Linked DNA regions of Homo sapiens: all the other regions are linked to region 4. The links come from fine-mapping of genetic effects on gene expression. A gene starts in region 4. Each other region holds a variant in brackets. All regions are shown on one strand. Distances are between the middles of the regions.

What was found.
Region 1: its variant is fine-mapped to the expression of PGAP1 in monocytes after LPS (Quach 2016, PIP 0.95). The same link has a PIP of 0.9 or more in monocytes and monocytes after Pam3CSK4.
Region 2: its variant is fine-mapped to the expression of PGAP1 in whole blood (INTERVAL, PIP 0.96).
Region 3: its variant is fine-mapped to the expression of PGAP1 in sun-exposed skin (GTEx, PIP 0.93).

Annotation. Positions count from the first base shown.
Region 1 is chr2:196,982,700-196,990,790 of GRCh38, forward strand. ANKRD44 (ankyrin repeat domain 44) reads right to left here. Exons shown (of 28, transcript NM_001195144.2): 28 at 3,963-6,950. The coding sequence ends at 6,892. Among named protein-coding and RNA genes, the nearest start is that of PGAP1, 60 kb to the left of the region's middle. The variant T/C (reference allele first, on the strand shown) is at 3,229.
Region 2 is chr2:196,617,293-196,625,402 of GRCh38, forward strand. No RefSeq gene overlaps it. Among named protein-coding and RNA genes, the nearest start is that of CCDC150, 18 kb to the right of the region's middle. The variant G/A (reference allele first, on the strand shown) is at 3,357.
Region 3 is chr2:196,682,314-196,690,423 of GRCh38, forward strand. The region is part of intron 13 of CCDC150 (coiled-coil domain containing 150); the gene reads left to right. It also overlaps LOC124900529. Among named protein-coding and RNA genes, the nearest start is that of CCDC150, 47 kb to the left of the region's middle. The variant C/T (reference allele first, on the strand shown) is at 3,763.
Region 4 is chr2:196,923,605-196,931,714 of GRCh38, forward strand. It overlaps PGAP1 (post-GPI attachment to proteins inositol deacylase 1), which reads right to left and starts at 3,103. Exons shown (of 27, transcript NM_024989.4): 1 at 2,866-3,103. The coding sequence starts at 3,012. RefSeq lists a silencer at 3,052-3,301.

The DNA of each region.
Region 1 (8,091 bases), 59 kb after region 4:
CTTGTCTAGGCTATTGCAGTGGCTACCTAATTGGTCACTAGGGTTTCTCTCTCTTGTCTCTCAACAGCAGCCAGAGTGATCTTTTAAAAATGAAATCACTGGATAAAGAAAATGTGGCACATATACACCATAGAATACTATGCAGCCATAAAAAAGAATGAGTTCATGTCATTTACAGGGACATGGATGAAGCTAGAAGCCATCATTCTCAGCAAACTAACACAGGAACAGAAAATCAAACACCACATGTTCTCACTCATAAGTGGGAGTTGAACAATGGGAACACATGGACACAGGGAGGGGTATATCACACACCAGGGCCTGTTGGTGGGTTGGGGTAAGGGGAGGGAGAGCATTAGGACAAATACCTAATGCATGCGGGGCCTAAAACCTAGATGACGGGTTGATAGGTGCAGCATACCACCATGGCACATGTATACCTATGTAACAATTCTGTATGTTCTGCACATGTACCCCAGAACTTAAAATAAAAATAAAAAATAAAAAATAAAAATGACAGAAAAAAAAAATCAGACCACAGCCATTTTTCTGCTTACATTTCTCCAGTGGCTTTTGTCACATTCAGAAAAATATAGAAACTCCTCCCAGCTCACAAAATTTTATGTCTGGGCTGAGATCGCTGTTAATCTTCTGCCACCCTCCCTTTCCCTTGAGTCTCCAGCCACACTGGCCCCATTTCTGTTCCTAGAACATAACAAACTCATTCCTGCCTTTGGGTATTGGCACTAGCCTTTTCCTCTCCCTAGAATGTTCTCTCCTCTGATCTTTGCATAGCTGGTAATTTCTTGTGGTTAGGATCTGAGTTTAAATGTTAGTAATTCTTAGGAACCCCAACTATAAAAAATATAAATAAAGTTCACGAATTTGCTGGGTACTTTCAACTCAATGCAAACACAGGTAAGCTTTTTGTGCTCTAAAAGTACTGCTTCAGTATTTTTACTTTTGAAAATTATAAAATTCTTCCAGAATGTAATACACAGTACTTCATTAAATTGACATTTAAAAGCAGAAAATAGTATCCTAGAAATTGTGTCCACCAGTGCCTAGAGAACCCTGTGAGGCTGAAGTACTGTGTTGTCAGAGCTTGCCATGTGACGGTGGGCCAAGTGCCCCACCTTTGTGAGCAGGAGTTCCCCCCACTGGGAAAGTAGATACAATCACCTCTTGCTTAAGACAAGAAATATACATGTGTATGGCCACATTTTGGTTTGATAACAAAGGAATTAAAGATGCCTTGATCTGTGCAAATCTTCTCCCCTGGAAAAATACATAACCAGGGCACATGTGCTCAGCATTGCCTTCCAAAGTTCTTTCTCAACCTTGTAAGTTCTCGTTCTGAGGGCATATAAAGTATGTTTATGCAATCCCTTGTGAAAATAGATGAGGCAATATGGCTAGTGTCATAAGCAATACATTGATGAAGAAATGATTCAGAAACAAGAGAAAGGCAAATAGGTGAGCAGTGGGGTAGAGGAGCATTGACATTCTAAGTGGCGCAGTTATTCCCTGGGTTGAGTGGCACATTTGGTCTCCCTGGCGCTTGGAACTATAAATACTCTAGTAGCAGCCCTGCCCACCCCCCAGCCATTGTGCCAACTACAAATGCCCACACATTTCCAATCACTCCCTAGAGTGCCTGAGAATTAATGAATGGCACAGCCATTATCTTGGTGCTTTATATTTTACAGCAAATGTACCTTCAGGATGAAATTTGCTAAAGAGACAATTCATATAGTACTTTTACCCACAATGTTTTTATGTTAATAGCCTTTTAGCTTAATGCTTTTGTGCTTTGCAAACTAATTCTGGAACACATTAAGTGTGTTAAGTGAGGGATACTTATACAGGGATCTAAACCTACCAAATGGAATTAGCGTGAAGGAACCTTTGACAAGCAGTTTGAAGACAAAGTGCCACATCAATGTTCAAAAATATAATTACCACAGTGGAGGCCATTATCACATTTCTCTGCTTATGAGAACACAATTAAAATTAGGGATCTCTACATTTTCCTTGAAAGGGTGAGTTCAGTCAGTCAAGCAAGCAATTTCCTTAGCAATGACTGGGAAGAAGGTGTATTAGTATGATGTTACAGCCTCAAAGGACACCGTGATAGACCAGGGTGGCGAGTAGCTTCCAAAAATGGCTCCTAGTAATTGCTGTTCCTGCTGTTCACACCCTTGGGGAATCCCTTGCCCTTGAGTATAGATTGGACTTAGTAACTTGCTTCTCATGAATAGAATATGAGAAAAATGATGAAATATCACTTCTGAAATTCAGTTGCAAAAATCTGTGACTCTGTCTTGCTCTTTGTCTCCCTGGCTTTTCTCAGCCTGCTCGCCCGCAAGGCAAGCTGCCATGTTGTGAGCTTCCCTATGGGAAGGCCCATCTGGCAAGGAACGGACGGCAGCCAACAGCCATCAAGGAACTGAGGCCCTCAGTGTAACAACCCATGAGAAGAATCCTGCCAACAACCATATGAGTGAACTTAGAAATGGATCGTTCCCAGGCCAACACCATGATTACAGGCTGTGAGAGACCCTGGAACAGAAGACCCAGCTAAACTAGGGCTGACTCATAGAAACTGTGGGTTAGGAAACATTTGTTGTTTTAAGCCACTAAGTTTTGGGGTAATTTGTTACACAGCAATAGATAACTAATATACCCAGTCTACTCTAAACAACAGGAAGCACTCACTTGTGGTGTGACTCCTGTTTTACATTCTTTAAGATTGAAAAGCACCCAGATTTGTATATTTGAATAAGAAGGGAGGCAGGGCTGAGTACAAAACCTCCCTTAACATTTCTGGCAGAAAAAAACAAAACATTATATGGCAAGATGGCATCGAAGAGAGAACATCTAGAGGCAGATGTGGTATCATCAGATCACTATCTTCAAAAATTCAAGTTGTATAACTTCTCTAGGATTCAGTTTCTTCCTGAAAGAGCTGGTGATGTGACTGGGCTGGACTGTAATAACTGCTAACATTCTATACTACTTGATTTGGGGAACTCAGGCAGGCACCACCCCCAAGTCTCTTCGTCAATAGCTGGAAACTCCATCATTAGGAATTTGTTCCTTAGTGCTTCCAGAGACTGTCCCTGAAGTTACTACTCAAGATGAAAAATTTTGGATGGTGAGATAGATGGGGAAGGAAATTCTATGGATACCTTTAAGGATAGTGCAGAGATGGAGGTTCTTGTGTTG[T/C]TATAAAGTCCCTGAAGGGTAATGGTGACAATACCAAAGTTAGGCATGGTTGATTTCACAATTTTGAGGACCTAATAAGCTTCCTCTTTTTTGATGTGGACTATATAACTGATCACATTTCTCCTCTTACCTTGGCTGCAAGGAAGCTGAGAGCAAACACAAGTTCAGTCACAGATACTGTTTTAAATTTTATGGTTCCTTTATCTGTTTGTATTCTTTTTCTCTGTTCTCATTTTTCTATTTCTAGTTTATCACGTCTTTTGTCATAACCCAGCTCAAATCCTTTATGGGCCAGCCTGGGCAATATAGTGAGACCCCATCTCTACAAAAAAACAAAATTAGCTAGGCATAGTGGTGCACATCTGTAGTCCCAGCTACTCGGGAGGCTGAGGTAGGAAGATTACTTCAGCCCAGGAGGTCGAGGCTGCAGTGAGCCGAGATCTCACAACTGCCCATCAGCCTGGACAACAGAGCAGAAAAAAACAAAACAAAACAAAACAAAACAAAACCCTTTATGGAAAAAAGTTGGAAGCATAAATACATATAATAAACACAAGCATATATGTTTGAATTTTTTCTCTAATTGTGATAACACAAACATAAATCGTGAATCTGGAGATACACTTTTATCTTGATTATTTTCTAAATTTAAAGTTAATTTGGCTTGAGGGGGTGCAAAGATTTAAATTAGCATAATTTAGAAAAAGCATAAATTGGAAAAATTAAAACACAAATTCCAACAATATTTGTACCGTTTTTATTTGTAAAAATAACCATCTGAATGCATTTCCATAGTATATTACAGTTAAGTACTTCATTACGTTATTAGAGCATTCAGTAGTTGCAAAAGTATTAAACTGTGCTTGAGAAGATTCAGATTGTTTCAAAGTCATTCACTGAACTAAAAGTCATTTTCCCCATTTTTACAGTCATGACATTTACCAGAGTCATTCAACTCCAATTTACATAAGAAAACATTATAGACAAAATCCCACTGAAATCATCAAACAATATTTTATGCTGTTACAAATATGTTATGCAAAATATAACACTGGCACCAGATTTGTATCATCGTGCTTTACAAAGATATATTGCACATGCTAGAGCATAAAATATGTAGACAAAACTACCAAATAAAAGATATTTGCATTGAATTTTTAGATCACATAAGAAACGCATAGAATTACATTTTATACAAACACTCAGATTGTCACTATCTTAAAATGCTTTTCCCCTATAATACTGACCTATGGTTTATAGTTTCGTAAGACGAAAGCATTTTAGCACTGCAAAATCAAACAATTCCTATAGAAAACTTAAGCATTTTCATATTCATTTCAATGCAAGTACAAGGGGAAATAGGAAAAAAGACACTTTATACATTCAAAGAAAAGTTGAAATGAAAACTCACTGGTATCATATTGCTCTGATAACACTCAAATGAAAAAATACAAAACATTCCACAGAACATTTTCAGAATATACAAATATAAAAAGGCACTCTAACTTCATATTACAAGACAATAAAACGGATGAGTTCTTCAACCAACACAACATATAAGCACACCAAGTTGCTCAACAGTACAAAGAATAACTAGTGCAGCAAATCCATTTGATGTTCTTGTTCTAATTTAATAACAAAATGATAAACCAAGCAGTGTTTACTGCCTAAAGTACCAAAACATACTATGGTGCCCTTTTAGTAGTGATAAATAGAAATACCCTGAGCTATTTACTGTAGAATCATAGCAGATTTTAGGCAATTTGGAGATAGTAATGTATTTAGCAAAGACAGGCAGACACTGGCAAATAAGTAAGTGCAATGAAACATGATCCTTGTAGTTGTGGTTAAAATACAGTCTAAAAATAACACAAATAAAAGCACTAAGCAACTAAGACTCAGTTAAAAACACATTTTTTTTTCTTAGAAAGCTATGGTGCAAACATAATTTTATTTCTAAGAGATGTAATTAAAATACAGAAATGATAGTTTTTAAAGTCATTTCTTTAAAAAAATTTTGCCTTGGGGTATGGGAGAAAGAGAAAGAGAGGAAGAGAGAGAGAGAGAGATCAGTTGATGTAATGAACAGTTCATTGTGAGCATGATTTCATTTCGTTCCTTTGTCCTCCTTCTATGAGTAAGAGAGTGGGAAAAGTCAAAACGCAGCTCCATGGAGATAACGTCTCATGGTGAGTCACTGCTTTGCTGAAATGATTCTTGTACTCTCTGCTACACGACAGGAAAAATGTTAACGCTGCTTTGCCATTAAAGCAAGCATTTCATTTCCTGCTTGAAATGCCAACTGAGCAAGATTTCCATTCACTTCTAGAAAAAGACACCGCAGCATATTGTGCTTCTTCAACACTGAACCTCTCTTAATTTTCAGTGTTTTGGTAAAGATAAGGTCATTATTGCTCATTAGCAATTTATCTGCTTTTTAAAAATTCATCTTCTCTAAACAAACGAAAAGGACAGAAGGTGGGAAGCACAACACCAAGAATTCAAAAAAACAATGGTGGTGGTGTGGAAAATTTTCAGTGAAATCAATACCAGTTCAATAAATCCTTTGAACAAGTTCTCATTTGTGAAGAACCCAACAGGAGTTTTAATTAAATCCAGGATATTAAGAGTAAGATTAAAGTTTTATAGCTAGATGAAAAATATAATACAGTTATCTGTCTTTGATCCAGATATGATAGAACATTATTTTTGAAATATCTCACATACACTATAAAATAGCAATTTCCAGGGTGGAAATGGAACTCATTATAAAACGTCAGAGAGTACTGCTCTAATTCGACACATTTCTTTTCTGTCTCTTCCTCAAGTAGAAAATAGCACTTGAGCTGGTGATTTTTATTTCTCCTTTTGGCACATGTGCCCACACACTGCCATCATTTCTCATCAGGTTACTGAGACTATGTGAGCTTTTCAGTGTACTTAGGGTAATTTCTAGATATTTCTTTGTGCTGCCTTTGTGTATATGATCCACTACACATCTGAGTTTTCATCTCGCAGAAGGGCATCCAGACTGCAATGTCTTCTAAGCTCTAAGCTGGCTACAGACTGTGGCTGAGCAGTAGAAGATGCGTAGCCCTCTCTAACCAACGCGGAAGAACCTGAGGGTCATCTGGAAACCTTAGCAGTGGAAATGCTAGGTTTGGCCCTTGGGCTTTTGGCTAGCCCAGGGTCAAGTGTTTTTTTTTTCACTTTTTTTTTGTTATTCTAAATAAGATACATAGCAATTAAAATAGAGAACAAATAATGGATGTTTCCTCACCATTTGTTTCATTTCAAATAAATATAAACACATTTACAGCAAAAGTATATGGACATTTTCTCTAGTTTGGCAAAAAAAAAAAAAAAGGTCAGCACATCATCAGTTACAAATGTTAAGTGGTCAACTAGAAATCTGTGTCCTAAGAAATATAAAATACAACAAAGACTGGTACACAGAAAGATTACATTTAACTCCATAAAAAAGCTACTTCAGTTCTCACTTGCATTTTGAAGGAAAAAAATGTGTATCTTCCATTTTAGACTGAAGCATTTTGGTCCTCATGTGTAGCTGGCTGATGAACTACACACACACACACATATATATATATATACACACGCACACATATATGTGTGCATGTGTATGTGCATAATTTTTAAAGAGTCTCATTCTTCTTTTTGTACAGCGGTTCCAGGTGTGGAACGGGGTCCATTTGACCTAGAAGCTTTGGCAGAGGGAGCAGACACAGTATTCACTATGTTGATTTCATCATCAAGCAACTGGCAATCGGTTTTACATGCTAAATCACCCATTTCTACTTTCTGCTTTCACTTTTTTTGTTCCTTTTTGCAGTCACACTTTTCACTGACTTGGTATGACCTTGACTGAGAAGCTCATTTTACTACTGATGAACAATGCTGATGATTCTGATGTTTTTTAAAAGTTAGTATTTTGATTTAAGAATAAATTAACAAAGGGTAGTTTCATACTATTTTTGCATATTGTGTCAAAGTTTTGGTGCAATATAATTTTCACCTGAAATGTTATTAGATAAATTTGGGTTCAATCACTTAAGTGAAAATTAGTCACAGGCTTGTTATAGGGAACACTGTGTTAAACAAAAAAAGCAAGTTCAATTTTTCAATTCATCTGGCAACTTTAACAGAGATCCTCAGAAAGAAGTTCTGGATATTCAAATGCTTACTATAGAGAGGATATAAATAGTTGGACTCTCTAAAAAGATTATTACAGGCATTATTTCTGAAGATGGACACCTTTACCTTTGGCTTCTAGTGAGGAAGTAAACATCAAAGTGAGAAGAAGTTTGAGGCATTTCCTATCTGCCTCTTCCCTTCCCTCCCAGGGGACATGAATGTCACACTGATATACTTCTGAGAACTCACTGCTAAATACATGAAAAGAAAAATTATTCATAGCGAACAGCTGCCTCTCTGCTGCATTATCCCCAAAGAACAGGAATTAAATACATCTTTTATTCTTTATTTAAAATGAGAGGTAGACTTTCACAGAAGTATCTTAGATTTAAAGAAAATGTGAAACAAAACAAAACTGGGGCCATCTGTGTGACTGTTCCACCCAACAGCCTCACTGCCCTCCCTCGATTAATTCCTTCTCTACTAGCTTCTGGAAGCCCAGGCCCCAAATAATACTTGAATACAACATAAACCTGGAATTCAAGCTTCTTTCCTTTCCTCCAACACAGGTGATCAAAGAAAAGCTTCTACAGTCCAAAGTCAAAACGTTTCCGAATCAGAATCATTTTCATTGTACCCATCCTCCGAGCCTACGTTGTTACTGCACAGGCTAACCATGCTACCCAGATTGGAGAGGGTCGTCCTGCTCAA
Region 2 (8,110 bases), 310 kb before region 4:
ACACACACAAAAATTCAGTGTCAATTAAGTACGCCATATGAAAATTCAGGCCTTTAGAATTATTTGCCTGCCATATCACTGCCTTAGCCTTTTAATTTGTCTCTCTGCCTCTATCCTTTACTATTTCCAATTCAATCTCATAGGACTACCAAATTTATCTCTCTAAAGCACAAATCTAACCATTTCATTCTGTAAGTAAATGACATCAGTAGCTTACTGACAAAATTCAGACAGCTTCAAGACAAAGTTCAGACTCCTTATCATAACTTCGATCTAAGTAGTGCCTACTTTCATTCCTCAGCATTTCTGCTCTAGTCACACTGCACTTTCAGTTTCCCACATGGACCTTGCTTTCTCACTACCAAACACACTTGCACAGGTTGTTCCTCCCACCTGGGGCTCCCTTTCTGCCCTTGTTCAACTGGATAACTCCTGTTCATCGCTTTTCACTTAACTCTGACACCATTTCCTCCAGAAAACTTTCTCAGACCCCTATCCAAATAAGATGCCCCTCCTGAGCCTACTCGACTTTCTTCCATCACAGGAGGTGGCTTACTTGTTTGGATTTCAGTCTTTCTTACAAGACAGCGAGGCCCTTGTCTTCTGGAACTTTGCCTTATTAATTTGCTACCCCACAGTTAGCATAGTGTCTGATCCAAGCAATAAGTGGTCAGTTAATGAATTAAGTCAGCTCACACCTCATATAGAGTTTGGCAGAAAATGCAGTTATTAACTGCACAGGGAGAAGGCAGAGACTGTTGCAGGAGCAAGATGTAAAATAGGAAAGCAGCCTTTCCTCTGCCCCCAGCTCAGGACCAAGCTCCCATTTCTAGGGCATGTTTTTCAAATGTGCTTCTTCTTTCTAGAAAAAGCTGGTGGGAGGTTGAACATGGTTTTTTGAGCTTGAGTCTTGACTCAATACAGGCCTAAGATCTCCTAAGCATTGGTGGAAATAGTAGAAAGTTGAGGATAGGGCTCAGTGACATCTCAGAGCTGCAATCAGTCTTTGTGTGTTAGAAGGAAGGCACTGCCATCGTGGCTAACATGGTGAAACCCCGTCTCTACTAAAAATACAAAAAAAATTAGCCAGGCGTGGTGGCGGGCGCCTGCAGTCCCAGCTACTCGGGAGGCTGAGGCAGGAGAATGGCGTGAACCCGGGAGGCGGAGCTTGCAGTGAGCCGAGATGGCGCCACTGCACTCCAGCCTGGGCGACAGAGCAAGACTCCGTCTCAAAAAAAAAAAAAAAAAAAAAAAGAAAAAAAAAAGGAAGGCACTGAGAATTGAATGCAGCTCTGATGTGGGTTATAGTTTTAATTTGAAAAAACTCAAATAAAACATTTAATTGCACAAAAGAAAACCAGAACCCATATAAGACAGTGTAGATATTGGAGTTCTTAGTGATTGGGTTTTTCCAATACCTGAATCTGAGAAAGGACTTGGGTGCAGATTGATTATTTAGGAGGTGATCCCAGGCAGCTGAAATAAGTGGGTGGAGAAAGTAAAACAGAGAAGGGAAAAGAGCCAACAAAGAGTGCCTCACTGAGCTGTGGGCAACTGGAGTTGGTTAAGGGTTGGCCCGGGAGCAACTGCCGCCTCCTCCTATGCTCTTCCCTGAACTTTTCAGCTGAATCTGCTTGGGTTGGGCTGAGTGGCCTTCTGTTTTTCAAAGAAAGCCTTGAAGCAGAAAGGCAGAGAGATGCCACTGCCCACATTTGAGGTCGAATGTGGCACTGTGCTTGGAATTGTCCGCCATAGCTGTGCTGGAATCACCTGGGCTAAGAGTGTTGTTTGGGACACCCAAGTGTCTGTTGTGAATTCTAAGAAGCTAAACTGCATTTGTGATCATGAATTTTTTTCTATGCTATAGCCAGAGCTGAATATCTGCAAACCATGTCCTCTTCGGAGAAATGTTTTCTGTAAGTAGATTTAAACTGCCTTGTGCCTGCAAATGTTGCTGGGTTTTGTTGAGATTATTGTGTTCTCATTTGAACAGTTATTACAGATAAGGCCCTGTAATCCTCAAAACTGCAGGAAGCATGTTCAGACACTTTATTCATCTCACACGGGAGAAGAAGTCATAAAAGGAACCAGGCTGGGTTTAGCAAAGCTCACCTTGGACTGAATTGCTGCTGTCAAGGATATGATATTATTGAAAATATAACAACACAGGTTTGAGAAATGTTTAAGAAATGTTTTTTGTCTCTTTGCTATTTGGAAGTGGGACATTTAAGATTGTAATCCTACTGCTATGGGTGTGCATCTCCTGTATTGATATTGGATGCTGTGCTCTGAGGTGTCATGTTGAGGAGGATATGTGAGCTGTTATGAAGGGCATGGTTATTTTCACTGCCAATCATCTTGGGAAGAGGAGGATCCTAAATCAGATGAGAAGGGATTTTTTTCACCATCCTAGACCTGGGCTCCAAGAACATACATGAAGCTACTCATAAGGGGTAAAGGAAACTGTCATCTGCCACAGGGAAATATGTGGTAACCAGGCAAAAGAGCATCCCTATGGATGAACCATGGTTACAAAAAGAACCATACCTGGTAGCCAGTTGTCTCCTGTGCTTCCATCTGCCCTGAGACTCATTAAGTTTTGTTAGAGTGGAGAACCTAGCTTCAGCTCAGTTTTGAGGTTGGGAGTCTATCTGTGTTTGATGTAGAGTACTCTATCTTAAAACTGAAGTAAACACAGTGTGCCCAGAAGAACAAGGATGGTCAATGGTGTTACATGCTACAGAAAGTTCAGAAAGAATGAAGACAAGAATTTTTAAAGCCACCAGGACCCTGCAAGATGGAGGTCAACAGTACCATCCCCGATGGCCACTGCAGGGAAAGTACTGAAGATCACCATCCAATTACAGTGCCTAAAAATAGACAGATAAAAGAAGTGGAAACAGTTTAGAAAATTATTTATATTGCAAATTAAAGGAAATCTTGAGTTTTTCTTAGTTATTATTTGAACTATTACACCTTTATATTGCAAATAAAGAAACTAAGTCTCAGATTGTGACTTCCCAAAGTCACACAGCTAGAAAGTTGACAGAGCCAGATTGTTTTTCCCTCTAGTTCAGTTATTTTCCCCACTCATTTTCAGGCTGGTGGCTTGATAACCAGTGTCAAATAATTGTTTTTGTTTTATTTTTATGTGCTCTTTTCTACCCACTCCCTCCTCCCCCAACAAATGGCTGTCTGGGCATATCTATACACAGAAGATCAAAAGCCAGGGGAATATTCTAAATAGAAGATAATAATTAAAGATGTAAGGTGGGCATGGTGGTATGTATCTGTAGCCCTAACTACGTGGGAGGTTGAGGCAGGAGGATCACCGGAGCCCTGGAGTTGAAGGCTGC[G/A]GTGAGCTAAGATCACTCCACTGCCCTCCAGCCTTGGCAACAGAATGAGAACCTATTGCAAAAATAAAATAAAATAAAATAATAAGGAGGCAAAATTCTCCCAGTCAGTCATTTATTGAAGCTATTACCCAGAGCCAATAACATGTGAGAAAGTGTTTTCTGGGCCTTCTGGGAGAGAAAATCATGTACTTTTCACAAAAGTTATTAGCGCTGTCTCCCTCCCTGGACCTACTGGAGGCATTGAAGGAAGAGGAGGGTGATGAGGTGAGGATGGTTTAAAACCAGAGTTTGAAGACAACACTGTGGGAGGCAAAAAAGGGTTAGCAGACATACAAAGACAACAGAATCCTTGGAAATAGATATTTACTTTGAGTCCTTACATTTTTATAGCTGTCTATCTCACACGAATTAATAACCACAAAACACAATATGGTAGAAATCGGGCATAGATGGAGAGAGGGGAGAGCTAGCAATCCAAGTTTAGGCCTGACACACCCAGCAGTGTGTCTAAATGTTCATGATGACAACATCAGAAACAACAGATTATGGAGTCCAGGAGAAGATGTTTATATGTGACCAGAAGTAAACTGACTGATTAGGTAAATTGTAGAGGCAATCATGATTCAATGTCCTAAAGAATCTAGGAGGTGAAGTGACCAACACCACTGGGCTGTTCCCAATATGTATTTCCCCTTTCTTTCTTGGTAACAGAAGCTGATTTTGGGCACACTGTCACTAACGTACCTCCATTTTCTGTCCTGTCTCACAGCTACATGTGGCTATGTGGTTATATTCTGATAAGTGGAATCTATTCAACTTTCAGGAAATATCTTTAGGAAAGAGATAGGTTCTTATTTATTCCTTCTTTTTTGCATTCTCGAATACAGACATGATGGGTAGAGCCTGAGGAGCCATCTTGGACCCTGAGGTTGAAATAACTTGTTAAGGATGGCAAACAACAAGATAGAAAATGCCCAGGGCCCTGGCACTGCAGAGCATCTGCCAGCCCTGAACTATCTACCTCCAGATTTCATTTATGTAGAGAAATGCAATTTGTTTATTTAGGGGATGATCCCAGGCAGCTGAAATAAGGGGGCAGAGAAAGTGAAACAGAGAAGGGAGAAGATCCAACAAAGAGTGCCTCACTGAGTTTTCCCCCTCTCATCATAAACACACACCTCAAGTTATCATTATTTTGCATTTACTGTCACTCAAAGCAAAATCTAATATTAAATGATGCAGCAGGTAAGCCGGACAAGTGAGTGCAGACATGCTGATAGAAGAGGAGACAGATTATGGTGTTAGAAATGGTATGATAAATTGGTAATCTCAATGGAAATTTGGGGATATGTGTTGACGTTGTCATTGCTATGGCCTTGCTGGGTCTCATCAGTGAAAGGACCAACTATGGCGAAGACTTCTTCTCTTTGGCTGATCAGCACCCTTCTCTCCTTTGGAAAATTTGTTACTTTTTCCACGTGTTTCTAGTGTAACTGCAACTACATTACCTTCTCCCTAGTCAAGGGGGACTGCAAGTAACTCAGGTGGTTCTGGCTTATAATTATGTTCTTTCCCATTTATTCAGATGATTGTTTCAATGGTTGGGCAGTTGACCGGAGCCAAAGTCCTCCTCTGAGGTTGTCCTAAATGGCTCCAAAGGGTAAAGCCCCATTTAACTCTGGGGACACAGGGCTGAAGAGAGGTGAAAGTTGTTAGCAGGGCTTGGTCCTTCTGGAGATTCTAGAGGAGAATTTGGCTCCTTACGTTTTATAGATTCTAGAGACATCTACATTATTTGGCTCCTTGCCCCTTCCTCTATCTTCAAAGCCAGCAGTACAACACCTCCAAATTTCTCTCTCTCTCTCCATCTCCCTGACCTCTGCTTCCATCATCACATCTCCTTCTATGATTCTGACACTCCTGCCTCCCTCTTTCTGTTTCTTTCTGCTATAAAGACCCTTTAATTATATTTGGACATGGTAACGGAGGATAATCTCTGCATCTCAAGATTTTTATTTTAATGAGCAAATCCCCTTTGGCCATGAAAAACACATATTCACAGATTCTGAGGATTAGGATATGGATATCTTTGGGGAGCCATTAGTCTTTCTACCACCCTAACCCCACCTCTGGTCTTGCAAAAAATTATTTTCTTATTTTCTTCTTGTCACTTGCAAACAAGAGTCCTGGCCTCATTTACCATTCAACTTCTTGCATTAAATCTAACAGAATAAATACTTTGAGTATACTTACATTTTCTGATAGGCTGTAAACCTCTTTACTCAGGTCAACTTGGTTTTATCATAGGAATTGATCCACCTACTCTATTCTAGTAAAGAACCTCAGGAGTCAACGGAATTGTTGGTCCTTGTAAATCCACCATGATATTGCCTTTTGCATATGCTTAATCCCAAGAAGACCATGATTTTAGAGCTAAATTATTGCCAAATAGTGATATAAGGATTATCAAGACATTGTTTAGGATGTGCTTATTTTCTGGAAATTTCAACCCCTTAATTATTGGCAGGAGTCAAAACCTTATGTAAATAAAAACTCTGGACAATACACAAAAAGTAGCTACCTCAAGATGCTGGAAAACAATAGCAGGTGGATTGTGGAAAGGAGTCAAAGCTTAGTGAATGACTCGTACTGGGTAAGTTTTCCTTCTCTGCCCCTCTTCTCTCTGCTGGTGTTGATTTAAGAGCAACTCTAATTGTGTGTAAGCTGTGCATCAGCATGGGTAGCTGTAATTATGAGAGAAATCCCATCCTTCTAACCAGAGGACTGGAAGGAGGGGCCCTCAGGAGTTGTAGAGAAGGAGGAAGATATCATAGAGAAGGGAACTGGAGAAGAAAATCCCTTATTCTGAGTATAAACCAACACATGTTCCAAGCTCACCCCGAGCTGAGCATACATGAAAAAGATGTAAAGCAGTATAGTGAAGTCTTTGAAAACTAAAATGACATTGGAACCATTTCCCACAGAGATTGAAATAGAGCTTGAGGTATGATCTAACTGGGTTGATTGTCTGTTAAAACAATAAGTAATCCACATTCTAGAGGAATATAACAGGCCCTGAAGTCATTAAATAATATTCAAAATGTCCAGGATACAATCCAAAATTACTCAACATACAAAGAACCAGGAAAATGTGACCAATTATCAAGGGACAGGACAATCAACAGATGCAAAACCTGAGCTAACTCAGATCAGGAGCAAGCTTTTTCTGTAAACAGCTGGATGGAAGGAATATTTTAGGGCATGGGGGCCAAATGGTTTCCATCACAATAACTCAACTCTGTCATTTAGGACAAAAAAGTCACAGACAATATGTAAATAAATAAGCATGGCTATGTTCCAAAAAAATTATATTTATGGAAACCAAAATTTGATTTTCATGTAATTTTTAGTTTCATGAAATATTAGTCTTTCTTTGATTTCCCCCCAAACCATTTAAAACTGAAAACAAAACAATTCTTTGCTCGTGGGCCATGCATAAACAGGCAGCAGTTTGGATTTGGCACATAGGCTGTAGTTTGCCAACTCCTGATCTAGATGTTGGAAACATCATACAAAGACTCCAAAGCAGCTATTATAAACATACTCCACAAGGTAAAGGTAAACACTCTCTAAATGAATTGAAAGACAGACATTCTCAACTAAGAAATAGAAACTATTAAAAAGAAAGAAATGGAATTTTTAAAACAGAAAAATACCATATTTGAAATAACTATCAAGAAACTCAGAAAATCTTCAAATACTCTTAGGAATGCTCTGTTTCTGATGATACCCAATAGAATTAAGATGTACCCCACAATTCTAAGGGTGATTATGAGGAATAAAGTAGATCATTTTTTAAGCAGAATGAAGTTTTGCAGGGGCAGAAGCTCAAATTTAAAACTTCTAGATATTAGATTTGTTACTTTATTATTTCATGTGCTGGGAAAAGGGAATGGAAAATGTATCATCAACTAGAAAATACATGGAAAAGAAAAATATTGCTGTCAGTCATTTTCTTTTATTATTTGTTTGTTTGTTCTGTTTATATTCGTTTTTTCATCACAAAAGTAATACATATATGGTTGGGCGCGGTGGCTCACGCCGGTATTCCCAACACTTTGGGAGGCCGAGGCAGGTGGATCACAAGGTCTGGAGATCGAGACCATCCTGGCTAACGTGGTGAAACCCCATCGCTACTAAAAATACAAAAAAATTAGCCAGGCGTGGTGGTGGGTGCCTGTAGTTCCATCTACTTGGGAGGCTGAGGCAGGAGAATGGTGTGAACCCAGGAGGCAGAGCTTGCTGTGAGCAGAGATTGCACCACTGCACTCTGGCCTGGGTGACAGAGCAAGACTCCATCTCAAAAAAAAAAAAAAAAAGTAATACATATATATGAAAAATTTTTCCAATAATACAAAAGTACATAAAAGTATAAAATCGAAGTTATTTCTTCATCTCCCAACTCTAATACTGAGAGATAAATGCTGTTAACAGTTTGTGTATTTATCTCTTTACTATGCATATAAAATAAATATGTGTATGTGCATTTTTTAAAATAAAAAAGGATCATATTATAGATATTTTAAACTTGTTTCTTTCATTCAGTGATGTATTGTGAATATTTTCCATTTTAGAACATTCATATATACTCATTCTTTCTGACAGCTGTTTAGTATGGATATACTATTATTACTTAACCACTTTCCTGTTAATGAGTATGGTAGATTGAATTATTCATTCTAATTCTTCAGTAT
Region 3 (8,110 bases), 240 kb before region 4:
TATATGTCTGTCGTTATGCTAATACCACACAGTCTTGATTACTATTGTTTTGTAGGAAGTTTTGACGTCTAAATGTGAATCTTCCAACTTTTTTTTTTGTTGTTATTTTTTAAAGATTGTTTTAGCCATTCTGGGTCATTGCATTTCTATATGAATTTTAGGACCAGACTCTCCATTTCTGTAAAAAAGAACAGCTGGAATTTTGGTAAGGTTTACATTGAATCTGTAGATCAATTTGAAGAGTATTACAATCTCAATAATACAATTTGTTGTATATTTTCTGTATAAAGTATGTCCTCACTTAATGTCATCAGTAGGTTCTTAGGTTTCAATTTCAAGTGAAACGACATACAGCAGGTCCTTGAATAACATCATTTCATTCAGTGTTGTGTTATGATGTTGATAAGAAAAAAATGGATTTTGTTATGCATTATCATTTCACTTGAAGTTGCAGTCTCCAAGAACCTATCAATGACAGTGAGGACTACTGTATAAGATAGTGTCATCACTATAACTATCTCTATAAACTATATCTCTATAAATTATCTCTATTTGTAATAGAGATAGTTATTTTTTGTAGAGATGGAGTTTTGTTCTGTTGCCTGGCTGGTCTCGAACTCCTGGGCTCTCTATTTGCTATGTCTATTTGTAATACAGATAGTTTCACTTCTTCCTTTCCAATTTGGCTGCCTTTTATTTCATTTTCGTATATAATTGCCTGATAGAATCTCCAGTGCAGTATTGAATAGAATTGGTGAGAGCAGACATCTCTGTCTTGTTTCTGATCTTCGGGGGAAAGCTTTTAGTTTGTCACCATTAAGTATGATGTCAACTGTGGGGTTTTTTCAATGCTGTTCATCAGGATTAGAAAATTCCCCTCTATTCTCAGTTTGTTGGGAATTTTTGTCATGAAAATATGTTGAATTTTGTTAAATGCTTTTGCTGTGTCTATTGAGATGATCTTGTGGGTTTTGTTCTTTGTTCTATTACTATGGTGTATTACAGTGATTGACTTGAAATGGAAAACTAAGCTTGCATTCCTTGGATAAATTTTATTTGGTCATGTTGTCCTTTTTATATGTTGTTGCATTAGGCTTGCTAGTATTTTGTTAAGATTTTTTGCATCTATATTCATAAGGGATACTGTTCTGTAGTTTTATTTTCTTGTAATCTTTTTGGTTTTGGTATCAAGATAATATTGGTCTCTTAAAACCATTTGGTAAGTATTCCCTCCATTTCTATTGTTGGGAAGAGTTTGTGAGGGATTGGGGTTAATTCTTCTTTAAATATTTTGTAGCATTTACCAGTGAAGCCATCTGGTTCTGGGCTTTCTTGTATGTAGAAGGTTTTGTTTCTTTGTTTGGTTTATTATTTTTATTCTTATAGGTCTATGCAGATTTTCTACCTTTATTTGAGTCAGTTTCAGTAGTTTGGTTCTTTCTAGGAATTTGTCCATTTCATCTAGGCTATCTAATTTGTTAGCATACTATTTTCAGAGTAGCCCCTTGTCTTTCTTTCTGTAAGGTCAGTAGCAGAGTTCTCTCTCTGACTGCTAATTTTAATAATTTGTGTCTCCTGTATTTTGTTCTTGGTTAGTCCAGCTAAAGGTTTGTCAATTTTGTTGATCTTTCTAGAGAACCAACTTGTGGAAGTTTTTATAGATTTTTCTCTATCTTATTTCTGCGTTAATCTTGTTACCTTCTTTATGTTTGCTTGGGGTTTAATTTGCTTTTCTTTGTCTAGTTTCTAAAAAAAAGCTTAGGTTATTGATTGAGAAATATTTCATTTTTTAAATGTAAGTGCCTATAGGAGTCACTCTGAACCTATTCTGGTTCAGGGGAGTGCCCATAAAAAAATAAAAAATAAGTTTCTGCAGCTATAAATTTCCCTCTCTGCACTGCTTTAGCTGCATATGAGATGTTTTGTTATTTTGTGTTTTCATTTTTGTTTATCTCAAACTGTTCTTTAATTTCCCTTGAGATTTCTTTTTTGACCCATTGGTTGTTTAGAAGTGACATGTTTAGTTTATTCACATATGTGAATTCCCCAAATATTCTTTTATTGATTTCTAATTTTATTCCATTGTGGTTGGAGAACATACTTTGCATGATATCAGTCCTTTCAGATTTATTGAGAGTTGTTTTGTGGTATAACAGGGTTATACCCTGAAGAATGTTCCATGTGCATTTGAGAAAAATGTGTATTTTGCTATTATTGGGAGGATTGTTCTATAGGTGTCCGTTAGGTCTACTTGGTTTATAGTGTTGTTCATGTCTTCTGTTTCCGCATTAATCTTCTGTCCAGTTGTTCTGCTGATTAATGAAAATGGGGTATTGAAGTCTCCAACTATTACTGTTAAATTATTTATTTGTTCCTTCAATACTGTCATTTTTTGCTTCATATACTTGTGGCCTCTGTTAGGTGCATATATATTTATAAATGATACATCTTCTTGATGAGTAAACACTTTTTCAGTGTATAATGCCCTTTATCTCACCAGTTTTTTCTTAATGTCTATTTTGTCTAATATTAGTACAATCATTCTAGCTCTTTTTAGATTACTGTTTAATTTATATGGTATATATTTTTCATCCTTTTGCTTTCAACCCCATTTGGGTATTTGGATCTAAAGTGTATATTTTATAAACAGCATATAGTTGTTTTTTTAAAAACTAATTTTGCCTATCTCTGTGCTTTGTAATTGCAGTGGTTTAATCCATTTGTATTTAATATAATTACTGTTAAGGTAGGATTTATATCTGCCATTTTGCTTTTTTTGTTTCGTTTTTTGCTTTTTGTTCCTCTATTTCTCAATTAGTGCCATCTTTTATGTTAAATATATATTTCTAGTTCACCATTTTAACTCCCTTATCATTTCTTTTATTCTGTATTTTGGTTTATAGGTAACAAAAAGAATTACAAACAAAAATATATACTACCTTTTATATACACCTATGTTGCTACCTTTACTGTTACCTTTTATTTCTTATGTGGATTCCAGATATTGTCTAGTGCCCTTTTATTTTAGCCTAAAGAACTTCCTTTAGTATTTCTTACAGCGTATGCTTTCTAGCTTCACAATCCAAACCCCATCAAAAATGGGGACCTGGAGAAATTACTCCACGTTTTAGGTGAAGTCTGAAGAACCACATTCTCAAGAGTGTGTTTAAACTAGAAGAAAAGCTCTTGTATGAATTATTTCCATTTTTATTTATCTGGGAATGTCTTAATTTCTCTGTTGTTTTTGAGGATAGGTTTGCTGAATTTAGAATTCATGGTTGAATGTTTTTCTTTTTCTTTTCTTTTTTTTTTTTCTGAGACAGTGTCTCGCTCTGTCACCCAGGCTGGAGTGCAGCGGTGCCATCTCGGCTCACTGCAAGCTCCACCTCCCGGGTTCATGCCATTCTCCTGCCTCAGCCTCCCAAGTAGCTGGGACTACAGGCGCCTACCACCACGCCTGGCTAATTTTTTTTGTATTTTTAGTAGAGACGAGGTTTCACCTTGTTATCCAGGGATGGTCTTGATCTCCTGACCTCGTGATCCGCCCGCCTCAGCCACCCAAAGTGCTGGGATTATAGGTGTGAGCCACCGCGCCCAGCCGGTTGAATGTTTTTCTTTCAGCATTTTGAATATGTCATCCCACTGCCTTCTGGCCTCAACTTTCTGATGAGAAATCAGCTGTTAATCTTACTGAGATTATCTTGTACATCAGGAGCCACTCCTCTCTTGATACTTTCAAGATTTTGTGTCTCTTGCTTTCAA[C/T]AGTTTACTTATGTTTGTTTTGGGGCATGTCTTTTACACTCATTCCCACAGTTGGCAACTGTCCTTTAGCTTGCATTTCTGATATCACATGATCAACAAACTGCTGCTGGAATGCTTACACCTGTTACTGCAAATTCAAAACCCAGGAAAGACTTCTCCTGGGAATTTACTTTATGTCAGGCTTGGGCTGCCTGGTACATGGCTGCACCCACAGCTGGGCAAGTTCAACAACACAGTAGCCTTTCCACAGACTATGATTATTGTAGCTTTATAATAAATCGTGAAATTAGGTAGAGTCCTCCAACGGTGTTATTTTCCTAAAGTGTTTTAGCTATTTTAGTTCATTTGCTTTTTCATGTATGTTTTAGAATGACCTTAATGATGTTTTGTGGGGATTTCAACTGAAATTAGAGTTAACATCTCAGCAATATTGAATCTTCTAATACAGTTAGGTTGTCACTTGATGGAGATACATTCTCAGAAATGCATCTCTGGGCAGTTTTGTTGTCGTGCAATAGAGAGTACTTACACAAACCTCAGTGGTCACACCTAGGTTTTTTTTTTTAACTTTTAAGTTCAGTGTACATGTGCAGGTTTGTTACATAGGTAAATGTGTGTTACGGGGATTTGTTATGCAGATTATTTCATCACCCAGATATTATTATTTTTCCTGATTCTCTCCCTCCACCCACCCTCCACCCTCTGACACACCCAGTACTTGTTGTTCTCCTCTGTGTATCCATATATTCTCATCATTTAGCTCCCACTTATAAGAGAACATGCAACATTTGGTTTTCTGTTCCAGTGTTAGTTTGCTAAGGATAATGGCCCCCAGCTCCATCCATGATCACGAGGACGTGATCTCATTCTTTTTTATGGCTGCATAGTATTCCATGGTGTATATGTACCACATTTGCTTTATCCAGTCTATCATTGATGAGCATTTAGGTTGATTCCATGTATTTGCTGTTGTGAATAGTGCTCCAGTGAACATACACACATGCATGTATCTTTATAATAGAATGATGTATATTCCTTTGGGTATATACCCAGTAATGAGATTGCTGGGTCAAATGGTATTTCTGTCTTCAGGAATTTGAGGAATCGCCACACTGTCTTCCACAATGGTTGAACTAATTTACACTCCCACCAACAGTGTGCAAGTGTTCCTTTTTCTCCACAACCTCACCAGCATCTGTTATTATTTGATTTTTTGACTTTTTAATAGTAGTCATTCTGACTGGTGTGAGATGGTATCTCATTGTGGTTTTGATTTACATTTCTCTGATGTTCAGTGATGTTGAGCTTTCTTCATATGATTCTTGGCCACATTTATGTCTTCTTTTAAGAAGTATCTGTTTATGCTTTTTGCCCACTGTTTAATGAGGTTGTCTTTTTCTTGCAAATTTAAGTTCCTTATAGATGCTGGATATTAGACCTTTGTCAGATGTATAGTCTTTCATTCTGTAGACTGTCTGTTTACTCTGGTGATAGTTTCTTTTGCTATGCAGAAGCTCTTTAGTTTAATTAGATCCCATTTGTCAATTTTTGCTTTCGTTGCGATTGCTTTTGACGTCTTTGTCATGAAATCTTTGCTCGTGCCTATGTTCTGAATAGTATTACCTAGGTTGTCTTCCAGGGTTTTTATAGTTCTGGGTTTTATATTTAAGTCCTTAAGCTATTTTGAGTTAATTTTTGTATATGGCATAGGGAAGGGGTCCAGTTTCCATCTTCTGCATATAGCTAGCCAGTTATCCCAGTCCCATTTATTTAACAGGGAATCCTTTCCCCATTGCTTGTTTTTGTCAGGTTTGTCAAAGGTCAGATAGCTGAAGGTGTGTGGTCTTATTTCTGGGTTCTCTATTCTGTTCCATTGGTCTATGTGTCTGTTCTTGTACCAGTACCATGCATGCTGTTTTGGTTACTGTAGCCCTGTAGCATAATTTGAAGTTGAGTAGCATGGTACCTCCAGCTTTGTTCTTTTTGCTTAGGATTTTCTTAGCTGTTCAGGCTCTTTTTTGGTTCCATATAAATTTTAAAATAGTATTTTCGAGTTCTGTGAAGAATGTCAATGGTAGTTTAATGGGAATAGCATTGAATCTGTAAATTGCTTTGGGCAGTATGGCCATTTTAATGACATGATTCTTCTTATCCATGAGCATGGAATGTTTTTCCATTTGTTAATGTCATCTCTCATTTCTTTGAGCAGTGTTTTGTAGTTCTTGTAGAGACCTTTCACCTACCTAGTAGCTGTATTCCTAGGTATTTTATTCTTTTTGTGGCAACTGTGAATGGGAGTTCATTCATGATTTGGCTGTCAGCTTTACTGTTGTTGATGTATGGGAATGCTAACGATCTTTGCACATTGATTTTGTATCCTGAGACTGCTGAAGTTGCTTATCAGCTTAAGAAGCTTTGGGGCTGAGGCAATAGGGTTTTTGAGATATAGGATCGCATAAATGTCTTCCTTTGAGAAGTGTCTGTTCATGTCCTTCGCCCACTTTTTGATGGGGTTGTTTGTTTTTTTCTTGTAAATTTGTTTGAGTTCACTGTAGATTCTGGATATTAGCCCTTTGTCAGATGAGTAGGTTGCGAAAATTTTCTCCCATTTTGTAGGTTGCCTGTTCACTCTGATGGTAGTTTCTTTTGATGTGCAGAAGCTCTTTAGTTTAATTAGATCCCATTTGTCAATTTTGGCTTTTGTTGCCATTGCTTTTGGTGTTTTAGACATGAAGTCCTTGCCCATGCCTATGTCCTGAATGGTAATGCCTAGGTTTTCTTCTAGGGTTTTTATGGTTTTAGGTCTAACATTTAAGTCTTTAATCCATCTTGAATTAATTTTTGTATAAGGTATAAGGAAGGGATCCAGTTTCAGCTTTCTACATATGGCTAGCCAGTTTTCCCAGCACCATTTATTAAATAGGGAATTCTTTCCCCATTGCTTGTTTTTCTCAGGTTTGTCAAAGATCAGATAGTTGTAGATATGCGGCGTTATTTCTGAGGGCTCTGTTCTGTTCCATTGATCTATATCTGTGTTTTGGTACCAGTACCATGCTGTTTTGGTTACTGTAGCCTTGTAGTATAATTTGAAGTCAGGTAGTGTGATGCCTCCAGCTTTGTTCTTTTGGCTTAGGATTGACTTGGCGATGTGGGCTCTTTTTTGGTTCCATATGAACTTTAAAGTAGTTTTTTCCAATTCTGTGAGGAAAGTCATTGGTAGCTTGATGGGGATGGCATTGAATCTGTAAATTACCTTGGGCAGTATGGCCATTTTCATGATATTGATTCTTCCTACCCATGAGCATGGAATGTTCTTCCATTTGTTTGTATCCTCTTTTATTTCATTGAGCAGTGGTTTGTAGTTCTCCTTGAAGAGGTCCTTCACATCCCTTGTAAGTTGGATTCCTAGGTATTTTATTCTCTTTGAAGCAATTGTGAATGGGAGTTCAGTCATGATTTGGCTCTCTGTTTGTCTGTTATTGGTGTATAAGAATGCTTGTGATTTTTGTACATTGATTTTGTATCCTGAGACTTTTCTGAAGTTGCTTATCAGCTTAAGGAGATTTTGGGCTGAGACAACGGGGTTTTCTAGATATACAATCATGTCATCTGCAAACAGGGACAATTTGACTTCCTCTTTTCCTAATTGAATACCCTTTATTTCCTTCTCCTGCCTAATTGCCCTGGCCAGAACTTCCAACACTATGTTGAATAGGAATGGTGAGAGAGGGCATCCCTGTCTTGTGCCAGTTTTCAAAGGGAATGCTTTCAGTTTTTGCCCATTCAGTATGATATTGGCTGTGGGTTTGTCATAGATAGCTCTTATTATTTTGAGATACATCCCATCAATACCTAATTTATTGAGAGTTTTTAGCATGAAGGGTTGTTGAATTTTGTCAAAGGCCTTTTCTGCCTCTATTGAAATAATCATGTGGTTTTTGTCTTTGGTTCTGTTTATACTATGCAGCCATAAAAAATGATGAGTTCATGTCCTTTGTAGGGACATGGATGAAATTGGAAATCATCATTCTCAGTAAACTATCGCAAGAACAAAAAACCAAACACCGCATATTCTCACTCATAGGTGGGAATTGAACAATGAGAACACATGGACACAGGAAGGGGAACATCACACTCTGGGGACTGTTGTGGGGAGGCGGGAGGGAGGAGGGGGGAGGGATAGCTTTAGGAGATATACCTAATGCTAAATGATGAGTTAATGGGTGCAGCACACCAGCATGGCACATGTATACATATGTAACTAACCTGCACATTGTGCACATGTACCCTAAAACTTAAAGTATAATAATAATAAAATAAAAAACCTACCTAAAACGTTTTAATTGTA
Region 4 (8,110 bases):
TTTCTAAATAAATAACACACTTAATAACAAAATATATGACTCATATTTTCTTTTTTTCTTTCTTTTTTTTTTTTTTGAGACAGAGTCTCACTGTCGCCCCGCCTGGAGTGAAATGGCACAATCTTGGCTCACTGCAACCTCCGCCTCCCTGGTTCAAGCGATTCTCCAGCCTCAGCCTCCTGAGTACCTGCGACTATAGACGCACGCCAACATTTCCTTTCAGAGAGCAACCGTTAGGTTACACATACGAAGATAGCCAGACAAATCACTGTATGAGAGAAACAACTCAGACGTTTCTTCTAAAATTCTGCAATTTGCCTAAAACCATTTGCTACCAAATAAAAGTTTTGCCTTGCTGTCGTAATAGGGCAAGAAGCTTTAAAGGATAAAGTATATTTTGCCTAGTAGGCTTGAGATATGGGTTCGTGAGATGTTCAATTAACTCTGAATAAGTGAATCTGGGAAAACCAGAGGTAGAAGATGAATAGAGATAATCAAACAATTTTAAATTCAAAACTTCATTTTTGCAAAGAGTTTCAAATTTATGCCCCATCTTTTAAAAAAATGGATAATAAAACTGAATGTGTTTCAACCACCTTTCTATTTCTGCTGGCTAACTAAAGAAGATGCAAATGAGCAGTAAAAAAAAAGAAAGGCATCAAAAGAAAGAAGAAAACCCAATGACTAGGACATCTCACATCTGGGTATCAACCTGTGAACAATTAGAGAGCTGACTATAAAATATAATTAAAAGTAAGCAATATGTAAAATATCTTTAAAACATTTTTATTCATGAAAGCCATTTGGTTCTCAACAGAATGGCCTCATTTATCCAGAAATCTCACTATGTTCAAAATGACTCATTTCTATAGGCTGGTTTTAATTGTATTTGTAAGATAACATGACCTGGTATGCAAAACAAAAAGACTTAAGAATACAATATAAATACTATCATGAATTAACACAGCTTTTTACATCATAAAAACCTGCTAAAAATCAAAAACTTCTGCCACTGTGATTATTACTGTATTAGCAAATTATTAATAGAAGTGTAAAACCCCAAAAAAGCAACTTAAACCAAAATAACTAAACCTAGACTACTCAACAACAATAAAAACCCAAAGAGCTCTTTACCATTAGCTACACTAATTTTCTGTTTTTCCAGTCAATTTATGAGGCAGGAAATGCGTCTGTGAGATCCATATGCTTTGTTCCCAACGCTAAAGAGAACAATTTCTACTTCTGTGAATATTAAAATAGCTTCAATAATTGTAGGAAATCTAAAAATAAATGGGAATTAGTACTGTACTGTCACAAAATGATTTTAACCAAACTCTTCAATGCGGTACAAAACTAAAGTGACCTACTTCAATCTATTGGGAGTTTCCTAATTATTAAACCAAAAATAAGGAGGGAATTATAATAGCTCTATTTTCAGTTTTTTAAAATACTAAACTAAAAAGGTTTGCTTAGAAATGAACAGAGACGACAGTAACATGTCAAAATCTTCTCCTTCGATAGCATCCCTACCAAATGTTTCCACTCTCTTATCATCATAAATGCAAAACCAAGGTAAGGATCTAAACACAAATGAAATCTAAATTTACTAGAATTTTTCCCATGGGAAAGAATGCTCTTCAGCAATTTAAACCTTAAGTAGTCTTAAGATCAAAATAATAGCAGCGTAATCAAGTAACAGGCTTCCTCCATAATGACTTGTACAAAGAAGCAATCAGGACTTGCATCCTTCACCCTAAAAAAAAAACTGCTGTGATTTTAAGAGTATACTAAAAATGTATTTTATCAATATATGTTATAGTGCATATACATTTTATGGTAGGGAATTATTACAATAGGTAGTCCATAATTAAGAGATGCACTTAGAAATAAAAGAATCATTCGGAAAAATTCTCTTAGGACAGTTGTGTAATTTGTCTGCGCCTCTTTTTACAGCTAGTCATGAATGAAATTCTAGATCCTACTATGCCGAACTAACGAAGCCATTGATTGAAAACATTCAAAATGGCATGGAAGCGGTAGGGGTGGAGAGAGAAGGGTTGGCTCTCTCTTAAACTCCGAACCCAGCGAGAAAACAAAAATAGCACCATGAAATAGATTTTGTATGCAACTATTAAGAGGCTCGGCTGCTGAGAGACATGCATAAACACAGGTATGCACACACACAGGCAAGCCCACACACGCACGGCCCCTTAACCTGCAAAATAAGAGGATCTGCAACATCTTTCCAAGAGGGGATCTAGTTTCCAATTCAATGACTCGCCAGTTTACCCATAGGCAAAACCCTGGAGTCTCTAAAAACAGCCTTGGGAACTATCTAGCCAATATACACTCTGCAGACGCTCGGTCCCTTTCTAGAAATGCGAAATCTGACGAGCAGATCACCGGGCGCGAGGGGAATTTAGGCGCGTGGGAAGCAAAGGAAGGTCCTGGGGCACGGGTTAAGGCAAGAACGCGAGAGGGATGGAGCTTCGGTTTAGGGAGAAGGGTTGAGGCTGCCTCTCTGGGCATGAGGGGGGCTGGGCCCGGCCAGTCAGAAGAGCTTGTGCCCAGGATTTGGGGCTGGGGAGGAGGCGGAGGGACAGCGGAGTAACTACGAGGACGACCACGAGGATGCTCTCGGGAAATCGTCTAACAAACACCCCACCGTGAAGAAGGGACACAAAGGGGAGGTGAGGGGGGCAGAAGGGGGATGCAGAGTCTCCCCGGGCGGAGAAAACAGAGGCGAGGACGGGACAGGGGGCCCGAGAGGCGCAGAGAGCCAAGGCAGGACGAACCCACAGAAGGAAAAAGGCACCAGGGGCCAGAGTCTTGGAGCGCCCGGCTGAGGAGAGGGCAGAACCTTACCTGATACTCCGGGTACTCAAACATGTAGCTCATACTGCACTTATTCTCCTCGAAGCCGAAGAAGACATCCCACAGCCCCAGGGTTGCCAGAAAGACCATGAAGACATAAAACGCCAGGTTCCAGAGATTAACTGAGTGAAGAAACATGGTGCCGCCACCACCGCCGCCGCCGCCGCCGCCCCCTCTACCTCCTTCTCCGCCGCGGGGCCCCAAGCCCGGACTGAGCGTGCTAGACACTGTCCGACCGCCACCCCCGGAGCCGAGCCCCAGCCGCGCGCGCCTGCGCTGATGCCCGGCCTGCCCGTTCGCCAGCCGCGCAGTGCGCCTGCGCGCACCAGGTCCGCGGCGCCTCTGGCCTGGCGACTCCCAGAGCCGAGGGAGGAGTAGGTGTTGCAGCGCGAGCGCGGATCTACGGGAAAGAGAAAGAGGGAGAAAGCAGGGTGGGCTGGGCTGGAGGGTGAGGGGAAAGAAGGGAAGTGGGGAGAGAAAGACGCGAGGAGTGGCTGGCGGGAGGGAAAGAAGAGAGAGAGAGGAAGCATCCAGAGGGGGATGGGCGGAGCGCGGGAGCCCTGGAGACGAGCCGGGGGATTGGGCAGGAGGCGGGTGTCAGATGGGTGAATCTGGGGAGGGGACTAGAGCCCAGAGTCCAGAGGCGATTAAGGACCGAGAGCGGACCGAGAGAGGGGAGGAGGACTTAAAAGCCCAGGGGTCATCAGCTGTCACCTCGCAAACGCCTCTCCCTGCGGCAGTTTAAAAACGCTTCCCGTTCAATTTTGAAAAGACTCAGGCCTCCGCAATTTCGGTTTTCCCAACGGTAGTAGAGCACACTCACAGCTCTCTGGAGCAGTTAGCTTGAAGAGGGAACAAATGGCTTTATTTTCCCTCTTCTACCGCCTACTTGGGCCCAGTAGGTAACAGCGCTTAAAAGCACCGGCTCATTAAAAAAAAAAAAAAAAAAAAAAAAAAAAACACCCGCAAGCCGACGAGATTCTGCTCTTGGTATCAGATGAAAGCCTGAATCACAAAAAGCATCGTTAGTCCTTAAAATATGTTACCAAAATATCTATTAGCACTGACGTCCCCAACAGGTATCTGCGTAATCAGTTTGACGCTGACTCGCCTTGCTCTCCAGAACCTCCATCTCTTGGGGAATGGGTTCCACGTTAACTGGAGGAGGCAATTTCGTCCAGCTTCCATTCAAACTCGCAAATGACTTAATTCGTTTTGAAGAATTTCGGTTCTGTTTTGTACAAAGGAGGAGTTTTTAAAAAAAGCTCGAAATCAATCACTTGTAGCAGCTTCAAAACACTAGAATGTTAGGAAAAAGACATCACTCTTTAAAGCTGACTCAACAGTAGACGGTGTGTGTGTGCGTGTGTGTGTAGTAACCACAGGATTCTTAGAATGGTCTTTGGCACTAAATGAATTTCATTGAACTTGGGCTGATTTTCTGGTATATTTTCTGTGCAGAGGAAGTTTGGCTACAATACATAAAATCAAAGAATTTTAAAACCAAAAGGAAGCTTATAGTTTATCTTGTACAACACCCTGATGTTCAGATTACGAAACTATGAAGAAGAAGTGGAGTGATCCTGAAAATCAAGATAGTCTTTACCCTGCACAGAAACAGTTGCAAGTCTAAACAAACACAGCTAGCTACGGAATGTGGAGTATTGACGGAGAAAGACAGAAATGGGAAAATGCGGAAGCAGTCTCCTTTTTTGTAGGGAGATAAGTCTGGAAAGACCAGGATAACAGGGGAGCTGTAGGTGGTACTGATCAGGAGGGCAATTAAGTAATATGTCATTGAAGTAAGTCCTGTATGAGACGTGTCGTTTTTGTTTGTTTTGAGACTGAGTCTTGCTCTGTCGCCCAGGCTGGAGTGCAGTGGCGCGATATCGACTCACTGCAGCCTCCGCTTCCCGGGTTCAAGTGATCCTGGTGCCTCGGCCTCCAAGTAGCTGGGATTATAGGTGTGACCACCACACCTGGCTAATTTTTTTTTTTTTTTTTTTGAAACGGAGTCTTGCTCTGTCGCCCAGGCTGGAGTGCAGTGGCGCGATATTGACTCACTGCAGCCTCCGCTTCCCGGATTCAAGTGATCCTGGTGTCTCAGCCTCCAAGTAGCTGGGATTATAGGTGTGACCACCACACCTGGCTAATTTTTTTTTTTTTTTTTTTTTTTTTGAGACGGAGTCTTGCTCTGTTGCCCAGACTGGAGTGCAGTGGCGCGATCTCGGCTCACTGCACCCTCCACCTCCCTGGTTCAAGCAATTCTCCTGCCTCAGCCTCCCGAGTAGCTGGGATTACAGGCACACACCATCATGCCCGGCTAATTTTTTATTTTTAGTAGAGACGGGGTTTCACCATGTTGGACAAGCTGATCTCGAACTCCTGACCTCTTGATCCACCCGCCTCATCCTCCCAAAGTACTGGGACTACAGGCATGAGCCACTGTGCCCGGCTTACCTTTTTGTATTTTTAGTAGAGAAGGCATTTTGCTATGTTGGCCAGGCTGGTCTCAAACTTCTGTCCTCAAGTGATCCACCTGTTTCGGCCTCCCAAAGTGCTGGGATTACAGGTGTGAACCACAGCACCCAGCCTGAAATTCTTTATGAAGTGGTGATTTCACTTGGGAATGTCATGTCTGTTATATTCTATTAATAGGTATAGAATGTGTTAAATTTGTAGAATTACACCAACATGACTGGATTATCAAGAAGAACCCATTTTGATCGCAAGATGTTAAGAGATAAATGTGATAAAGAGGAATATATACTATAGGGTTTTGACATTGTTGACCATAAAAGAGAATGCATGTGGGGTTTGGGATGCAATTACCAGTGAGTGCAGAGGATTACAAATCATTTGGGGAAGGCTTTAAGTTATAAATAAAAAGGGGGGAATACATTGAGTCTGGGTGCTAAAGAACATCAAAGGCAGAACGTCTCCTCTTTATTTCTCCTAGCATGGTAGGAGTAGTATTATGACAAATAAACCCAGGGTGAATCCATACTCCCTCATCTCTATCTCAGTGCTTCTTAAAGTTAATGTGCATGTGAATCACTTGGAGATTTTGTTAAAAAGCAGATTCTGGGCCGGGCACAGTAGCTCATGCTTATAATCCCTGCACTTGGGGAGGCCAAGGTGGGCGGATCACGAGGTCAGGAGTTTGAGACCATCCTAGCCAGCATGGTGAAACCCCGTCTCTACTAAAAATACAAAGAATTAGCTGGGCATGGTGGTGCACACCTATAGTCCCAGCTACTTGGGAGGCTGAGACAGGAGAATCACTTGAACCCAGGAGGCGGAGGTTGCAGTGAGCTGAGATCCCACCACTGCACTCCAGCCTGGGCAATAGAGCGAGACTCTATCAAAAAAATAAAAATAAAAAAAAGAAGATTCTGATTTAACAGTTCTGGGGTGGGACCCAAAATTCTGCATTTCTGACAAACTACTGGGTGATGCCAATGATACTGGTCAGTGGACTACACTTTGAATAGCACGGACCTGTACTGCCTGAGGACTCTGTTCTATGGAGAAATCCCTGAACTCCAAGATGACAGAGCTTCCTCTTTTGGTGGCCTTCATGAGTTGTGGCAACTAGCTGCATTGACTGTTCACTCAGAAAGGAGTGGGATAGAGAGTCAATGGATTCTTCATGTTTGTAATCTTTCTATCCTAATTTTTTACTGTCTTTTCTCCTATCCATCATTATCCACTCCTAGCTTTACTTTTATATCTAACCTAACCCTACTGAGCATCACTTCAACCACCCTCTGCCAGAGCTGTCAACTGTCTTGACCGCTTGTCTTTCTATCCCACTCTACTTACAAACTTCCAACCTTGGGACAATATAATCTGGCTCTGAGCTCTGACACTACTGTATCTGACTACTGCTAGAGAAAATGACACAGTCATTTGAATTAACTCTTCAAAAATACTTGGCCAGGCACAGGGCTCACGCCTGTAATCCTAGCACTTTGGGAGGCCGAGGAGGGCAGATTGACTGAGCTCAGGAGTTCGAGACCAGCCTGGCCAATATGGTGAAACCCCATCTCTACTAAAAATACAAAAATTAGCCAGGCGTGGTGGCGCACGCCTGTAATCCCAACTACTGGGGAGGCTGAGGCACGAGAATTGCTTGAACCTGGGAGGCAGAGGTTGCAGTGAGCCGAGATCTCACCACTTCACTCCAGCCTGGGCAACAAACAGAATGAGACTCTGTCTCAAAAAATACTTATATATGTTTCTGGTCACCACCTTCCTCTTCTATATTTCAGACCACCACTTTTTAAGTTCCCTGCCACTTTTTAAGCTCCCTACATTTCTTCTTCCTTCTCTTTTAGTAGGTTTTTAGTACATAACCTTATCTTCATATTACAGAGATAATTTTGATTTTCAGATGCACATTGCTTCAGCTTCTCATTCCTAAGTTCATTATCTTCACCCAGTCCTAATTCAGTTAATACATCTGAAGTGTTTGGCACAATGACTGGCATATAGTAAGCATTACCATGGTACTTTGCTATCCTTAGAGGACATAAAAAGCACATCTCTCTAGCTATGTTTTATGTTCCCATCTCATGCTCCTTTCTTTTCAGGAAGTTAGTTCTATCAGGTTAAGGGCTCTATCAATCTCTCCCTTTCTATCCTCCCTCCCCAAAGCATATAAATATGTGTTGTTGTTTTTTTTCAAAAATCTTCCTCGTGGCTCTCACCTGTAGCTCTTCTCATCTCAGTCAGGATTCCTAAAGATGTGATCAATACTTATGTCTAATTCCTCATCTCCCCTTCATGTCTCAGCTACACTGTAATTTTTGCCCCCCTCCCACTCCCATGAAACTTTTCTTGCAAAGGTAACCATTGACCTAATTACCAAATCCAGTTTACACTTTTCAGTCTTACTTGATCCTTCTACTACATTTGCCACTTCTTTCTTAAAACAATGCCCTCCATTGTCTTCTGTAACATCATTTTCCACTGGTTTTCTCCTGTTGATGTAGCCTCTCAGTCTCCATCTCATGTGACTTACTTTTTTTACTTATCCCTTACATTTTATTAATCCCATGATTTTATTCCCAGTCATCATTCTACTTTCCAGCAAAAATCCTTTAGTGGCCCCTCAGAGCGTGAACTCTAGTCAGGATTCTTTTGGTTGCAAGAACACAAACTAACTCCAGTTAAAATGGGGATTTTTTTTTTTAAGGTAAAAAGGAACTTGGGAATCCAGAATAAGCTGACA